Linked DNA regions of Homo sapiens. The protein of the gene in region 1 interacts with the protein of each later gene in a pairwise test. Each region holds a gene or a part of one and is shown on either strand. Other genes may lie near its edges.

Evidence for each region. The genes of interacting proteins can lie anywhere in the genome.
Region 2: the proteins of SDC3 (region 1) and KCNJ2 interact in a two-hybrid assay, tested with the Homo sapiens proteins (one large-scale study listed by BioGRID).

The regions. Positions count from the first base shown.
Region 1 is NC_000001.11:30,898,759-30,902,258, reverse strand, and holds part of SDC3 (syndecan-3), read left to right. Parts: intron 1-3,500. UniProt on the Homo sapiens protein: Cell surface proteoglycan that may bear heparan sulfate. May have a role in the organization of cell shape by affecting the actin cytoskeleton, possibly by transferring signals from the cell surface in a sugar-dependent mechanism.
Region 2 is NC_000017.11:70,168,401-70,172,331, forward strand, and holds the start of KCNJ2 (inward rectifier potassium channel 2), read left to right. Parts: upstream 1-1,131; 5' UTR 1,132-1,301; intron 1,302-3,931.

The DNA.
Region 1 (3,500 bases):
GTGGCGGTGGCCCCAACAAATGATCTGGCCCTTTTTTTACCTGGCTGCTGTGGGTGGAGGGCAGGAAACGCCTATGCTGGCCTTTTATACCAGGTGGAGAGGGTTCTACAACCCCTGTTGCCCCAGCTGGCTGAGGCCTGCCTTCTCCCCACCCCTGGCCTTGGTGCTATGTCTGTTTTGGGGTGTCCCAAGCCTGAGGGGGCAGCTTGAAGTCATCGAAGGAGTAGGGATCCTGGAGCCAGCTGATTCAGGGTTGAAATCCTGGCTTTGTCACATTCCTGCTGTGTGACCTTGGTGAGTTCACCTAACCTCTCTGAACCCGCAGTCTCCTCTTCTTTAAAATGGGACCTCAGGGTTGCTTGAGAATTAGTAATATAAAGTAATAAAGTAAATAAAGTACTAAAGTAAATAAGGAGCGGGCTGCTCCTGCAAATCTTGTTTTTTTTCCATTCACCTGCCTTGGTTTTTGTTCTTTTTCTGTCCCTCTCTGGGTCTTACTGAAGAACTACTGCTTGGGGGTGAGGAGCAGGGTTTTCTTTTGGAGAGAGGGGGAACTAAGTTTGAATAATCATGGATGGCCTGAAGGAGAACTCTGGGGGTGGGGGTACCCTTAGAAGGAGACCAAGGGCCGGACTCCCAGTTGGAGCCAGCAGGACTTAAGCCAGATGAGAGGAAGCACATTCTAGGGTCCGTGGTGCTGAGTTTCTGGGGGCTGGTTCTCCAGAGCTGTTGAGCAGCCTGCAGTCCATCCTGCATGATGACTCTTCAGGCCCTTCCACTCCTGGAACTCCAGAGAGGCCTTGTTATTTGCAGCTTGAGCCCAGGACTTGGTGAGACTGGGTGCTTTCCATTTTCCTCCCAGCCAGGGAGCATCTCGGCTGTGTTCTGTCTGTCACATGGGCCCTGGCCCAGAGTAGGTGACTATTGATGTTTACGCAGGATCTCAGGGGTGGAGAGTCCTAGAGAGATGGCCAGCCCTACAGCCTGACATCCCACAGCTGATGGCCCAGCCACAGCCTGGGGCCTTGCCAATGGATTGGGGCTGGCTCTCCAGCCTTAGATGGTCCCACTGAGCCTCCCACCACTCTTGAGGGGCTGGTGGGATTCCCCTTATTTAGAGGAAGGCTCAGAGATGTTAGGCCACCTGCCAAAGCACACACAGCCAGGAGCTGGTGGAGCCTGGTGTTCATTTGCCCCTTCTCCTACCCTGGAGCCCCATCTGATCTTGTCGTCACATCCCCTACTTAGCCAGGGTTTTCTGGGGGTGCAGCTGGGACTGGGGATAACACTGACTTGGGCCTTCATCCTGCTTTTGGATGGGCCATGGGCTTCCAGGGTGCTGTCTGGTGCTGCTTCACCCTGGGGTTAGCCTTGGCCCAGGCGACCCTAGAGATTCCTGTACCCCCTGCACTGCCAGCTAGGACCCCCCCATCCATCCTGCCCTCCCCCATCCCTGCCTGCCAGCCCAGACTTTAATGAGGGTAATTTAGAATCAATCACCAGCGGGATCTGGGAAATCTAATTGCAGCAAACTGATTGCCAATTCGATTGCGGGCACCAGGGGGCTGTGGGCGGCTCATTAGACCTGTCCCCCTCCCTGGGCTGGGGCTTGGGGGTGCTCCGTGGGGGATGCAGGGCCTGAGTAGGCAAGGCTCCTGGAGAGCTGGGGGGAGGTGGACTGTTGTTTTGGGAGCAGGGGAAGGGCATTTTTACCTGACAGAAGCCATACACTATTCCCTGTCCAGGCCCACAGTTGGGGTATAGGTGCCTGTGTCAGTCTTTACCCTCTGTCATCCACCCCTTGCTTAATGCCCCCTCCTCAAGGCCTGGATGCCATTGTTGGGGGGTGTCTGCAGCTGCATCTTACCTGGTTCCTGCCTTCAAGATGCTCCCTGTGTCAGGGAGACAGACACAAGCACAGATGATGACGAGGAAGATGATGAGAAAGATAACGGCCAATACTTACTGCTGCATGTCATGTGCTAGGTGTGGTTCTAAGTGCTTAACATGCTTTATCTCAGTGGGTCCTCACTATGGCCCTGTGAGGCAGGCATGGTTACCCCATTTTACAGATGGGGGCACAGAGGCCCTGAGAGGTTGAGCAATGTGCCCACAGTGGGGCAGTTAGCAGGACTCTGAGCCTGGAGCCTGGGTGCTTATGGAGATGCTCGTTCAAGAGCGTGGGGAAAAGAAAGGGCGATCAGACTGTTACTGTGTCTATGTAGAAAAGGAAGACATAAGAAACTCCATTTTGATCTCTTTCTTTTCCCCACACAAGGGCATCAGGCAGACGTGTGGGCTCCTGCATGGGCGCCTGTCTTGATTGACTGCGTTGCTCACTCAGCAGACATTTACTAAGCACCTGCTGTATATGAAGCCCTGTGCAAGGGGGCTGTCAGTGTTCAGTTGTGTCGTGTGTGTCCTATGTCTTGTCTGGCCATGTCTTGCTTCAGGCAGGTTTACTGGTGGCAGGTGCATGTGCTTTTGTGAGGTCTCGAGGGGGGAATTGAAGAGAAGCAGGGAGGAAGCCCTACCCCTCCTCCCTGACAGGCTGAGCCCCAGCTCTGCCATTAGAAGTGGGTGGATTTTGGCTGGGCGAGGTAGCTCACGCCTGTAATCCCAGCACTTTGGGAGGCCAAGGCGGGTGGATCATGAGGTCAGGAGTTCAAGACCCACCTGGCCAAGATGGTGAAACTCCATCTCTACTAAAGACACAAAAATTAGCCAGGCGGTGGCAGGTGCCTGTAATCCCAGCTTCTTGGGTGGCTGAGGCAGAGAATTGCTTGAACCCGGGAGGCGGAGGTTGCAGTGAGCCGAGATCGCATCACTGCACTCTCGCCTGGGTGACAGAGCGCGACTGTCTCAAAAACAACAAGGCAGGCTTGGTGACTCATGCCTGTAATCCCAACACTTTGGGAGGCCGAGGCGAGCAGATCACAAGGTCAGGAGTTCGAGACCAGCCTGACCAACATGGTGAAACCCCATCTCTACTAAAAATACAAAAATTAGCTGGGCATGGTGGTGCACACCTGTAATCCCAGCTACTCCAGAGGCTGAGGCAGGAGAATTGCTTGATCCTGGGAGGTGGAGGTTGCAGTGAACTGAGATTGTGCCACTGCACTCCAGCCTGGGCAACAGAGCGAGACTCCATCTCAAACAACAACAACGAAACGAAGAAGTGGGTGGATTTGGCTAAGTGACTCTTGACTCAGCCTTAGTCTCCTCTTCTGTCAGACAGATCCAGTGATCCCTGACCCGTTAGGTGGTGGTGAGGAGTGGTGGGAGGTGCAGATGGTTAAAAGGAACCTGCTGCTGGGTGATGACTTTTAATTATTATACATTCCCCAAGGTGGTTGTGTCTCAGAGGTGAATTTGCCACTAGCTTGTCAAGTGGTAGCAGGCAGCCTGTTCCCTCTCTGGGCCTCCACTTCCACGTCTGTTAAATGGGAAGAGTGAATGGTGACCCAGGGGCCCTTGTAGTCTTCAGATTTGAGGAACTA
Region 2 (3,931 bases), on another chromosome or scaffold:
ACAAAAGACACATTTGATCGCTCGAGAAAATAAACATTTAAAAAACTCAGTGGAAAGAAAGACTCCTAAAATATATCCTGTCCTTTAGGAGCAAAGCTTCGTTAGGACACCGAAGTACTCAGAAATAATAGGCACTTACTCTTCGGTTTACACACACACACACACACACACACACGGATTAGTTTATAAAGTTCCAGGATCCAGACCCGGTTAACACTGAAGTTGCTTTTTAGGGGTCTGCGCGCTCTCGCCTGGCTGCTGGGAAGGAGGGCTGGGAGGCGCTGAAGCGAGGGCAGATCTGAGTGTCTGTAGGAGTTGCTATTCCAAAAAAAATCATTACTCTCTAATTGTTCTGATTTTAGATCAGCAAAGCGTGCCGGGCGGTGGTGGAGAGACTGAGGGCGGACAAGGCGAGAGGGAACGAGCCGTCCACCCTTCGGAGAAGCCTAGGCGCCTTGTAAGTAATTCGCGAACAGTCGGGAGAACAAACAGCCAAGCGGCGCTGCAGTGGCCGCACTTGCGCGCGTCTCAATCCTGGGGGCTCTGCGCGCCCGCCCCAGTCCCTCGCCCCATTGACTCAGTGGCTTCTCCGGGCGCTGCAGCCTCCGCGGGGGGCTTCGAAGGGCCGAGGGGCTCCGGCAGAGAGGGAGTGGAGAGGGAGACGCGCCGGGACCGACGAACAATCCTGCCCCTGCGGCAAAGGTCTCTACCCGGCGCTGGCACCTCGCAGGCCCCTCGAGGAGCACGCAGGGCAAGCGGCCCAAGAGCGGGGGAACCGGGAAGTGTGTGGGGCTCCAGACGGAGTAGGAAGCTTTGCCCAAGGCCAGGCTGCAATCAGGCAGCCGCAACAGCCGGGCGCGGAGCTTCCCACCTGCTGCTGTCCCAGCTGGGCCGCAACTTCCTCCTCCCCGGCCCGGGCCCGACTCCCCGGCCGGGCTCCGAGGGTGGAGGGGGACGAGGCGGCGGCAGGTTCCCTCCGCTGGCAACGCCTCGCAGCATCCTCCCCTCCCCGCCGCGGTTCCCGGGGCCGGCCGCGCGGCCAGGCGCGCTGCGATTGGCCGGCAGCGGCCGGGGGCGGGGCCAGGAGAGCCGGTGTCGCACGGACCGCCTCAAAAGAGCCCAGGATATTGCAGAGCGCACTGGAGCCCTGGCCAGCGCGCAGCCTTCCCGGCGCCGGCGGGCTGGGTCTTGGGAATTCTGGTTTGCTTTGGCTCACTCGCTTTTTACAAACCACTGGATCTTACATGCCTCTGTACCCCCCACTTCCACTCCATGTCCCCATGCTCCTGCGCCAGCAACAGGTAAGGGCTGCTGTGTTTTCTTCCTTTTCGCTCGCTGCCGGTGTGTCCTGGGGAATGGACTCTGGCCGCCGTCCCCTACCCTACCCTGCCCCGCTGCTCCAGAGGTGCCCAGCTGTCACACTGCTGTAGCGCTCACCCACACTCCGGAGTCCCAGATCATGCCTATATAGTTTGTGTGCGCACCAGAACATCCCCAGAGCTAAAAATACTGAGACATGCTTGGAACAGTTGAGCAATAGAAACAGATTTCTCTGCAGCATCTGTTTGTGCTCATAACTTCCAATGCACCAGCTGTAGCGAGATACTGGGTTTGGAGGCAAGGGCGAGAGCGTCTGTGTTCGGTTCTCACTCTAAGTGGGGAAAAAAAGAAAGAAAACGTGGTTGCGGGTTTGGGGGTGCGTCTTGAGCCCTGGTCTTAAACCTTGGCAAAGCTTGGGACTCAGCACTATTCTTGATCCTTGGCTTTTTTTTTTTTTCGTCATTGCTTCAAGTATAGCTGTGAGTTTCAAACAGAGTGAGTGTCTCAAAGTTGCCTTCCTGAAAGAAGAGCGGGAGCCCGAGTTGGATTTGAGCCTGAGGATCGCAAAACTTTCACATTACATATCACTCTCCCCTAACCAATTTGTTATTTTCAGTAATAATGGTATTAATACCTGGCTTGAAGACAGTGTGGTTTTAGGAAAGCAAAATAGTCAAAACGACTTGATTCTGCAAAAAGATTGCATCATAGCGTGGATTCATCATGACAATTGGAAAAAAAATAGGGATAGGGAATGGGCAGTTTAATGTCTGTGTCTGGGTAAGGATATCATAGGATGATCACTAGGATAAAAGGCTGTGAATTCCGACGATTTTCATAAATTCAGATTTTACCTGTTAGGAAATAAGGTGTTATTTGAAAACCTCGGATATGCAAAGAAACCATATTGCGTTTTATCATTTGTTTTCTTTTCACATTAATAATCAATAGGCTGCCAGATTTCCTCTCGCCAACCAATGTTGTGTGTCTGCTGTACATTATCTGTACACTTGTTAGCGTTTTCCTGCTCACTTCCAAATGTTTCATTTCTATTTGCCATTATCTGGAAAAATCCTGGTGCTCAGAAGGGGTAAGAGATGTTAATTGAAGCATGGTGGAAAGGGTGAGGATAAGGTCAAGGCCATTTTACTTAGCTTCCTCCTCTCTCATATTTTAATGACACTTTATTTTTTAATGTTCTTGGTCTCCATAAGAAATATTTGATCTAAACTCATGTGAATTTTGCTTTTAAAAAAAATAAAAGAACACAGTCTTTCTACATCCTTTGGATTCCTGAGTTGTAGAATCTCTGGTTAGCTGTAGCGTCCTTGTATGACTTTTGCGTAGCCTGAAAGATTGAAAACAGCTACCTGCACAGATTAAGTGTTTCAGATTTTTTTAAGTGTATATTTTTATTTACCAAACATGTCTGTTTTTCAGCGTATGCAAATGCTGAGCAGTGCTACAAGCCAAGTGTCGTTGAGTATAAATGTTAGACAGGGGGCTCACACGTAGATAGATGGGTATCCCCCTCCCCTCCCCACTTCCCCCTCCTCCTCCCTCATGTTTATTGAGCTTCTAAGAGGCTGCTTTCCTAGCAGTTGTGCTCACATAGCAACATGTGCCCAGAGCACACTCAGGCTGTTCTATATGGCGTCAGCTGGGGAATAGCTGCTCTAAACACTCATTAGCAGACCTCTCTCTCAGCCCAGTACGTTTTCTTTTGCTATCTTTATTTCCTATCCTTAGAAACTTTCTTATTTATTGCACACCATGACCATATTACAGGACACATTTACTCTCATTTGATTTTTTTTTTTAGTTATTTATAAGCCATATTGGAAGTATTACCTATATAGTCAAAGCAATTTAGATCCCCCATTTGTACCATGTGATCTCCTTGACCTTACATTTATCCATAGCTCTTTCTCCTTTAACATCTACCTAAGTTTAAAACGCTGAACTATTTTTTTCCATTGCTTATGCTTAATTTTGGCTCAGCCTATAAATAGTCTTAACATGAACAGCACCACATGTAACCTCTCAATTTCCCAAAAATACTTTCTACATCATGGGTTATGGCCTGGATAAAAATGATTATTTGTGTCCATGAAATTTACATCTAGACCCTTAAATATTTTGGCTGGAAGGGAGATTTACACATTGTTCATCAAATCAAATTTCAATTCTCTGGATTTGTATCACTTAGTGTTCTCATCTACTCCTCATTGATTGCATCTCAAACATTATTTTGAATATATGCTTGAAATAAAGTTGCATGTAAGCCCTGTTTTTTTAATGATAGCTTTTCTCAGCTGCTCACGAATTGGTAATTGCTAGTGAGAGGACCGGGCAAGGAAGTTTTCTGCTTGCTTAAAGTCGCTCAGGCATGTGGGCAGGTTAACAGTAAAAGCAATTTTTACCATGAAATATTAAGACCGTTACCCCATCAAACCTTGACAGGTTCTAGACTTTAGCTATGTAATCAGCTCCACAAAAAGTCTGCATACATATATGTGTGTGCACCTGCATACACACATAAATCTGTTTGGGGGCATATCTATTTAAAGTGGCAAAAGTTTTCTTTTTGCCAAAAAAAAAAAAAAAAAAA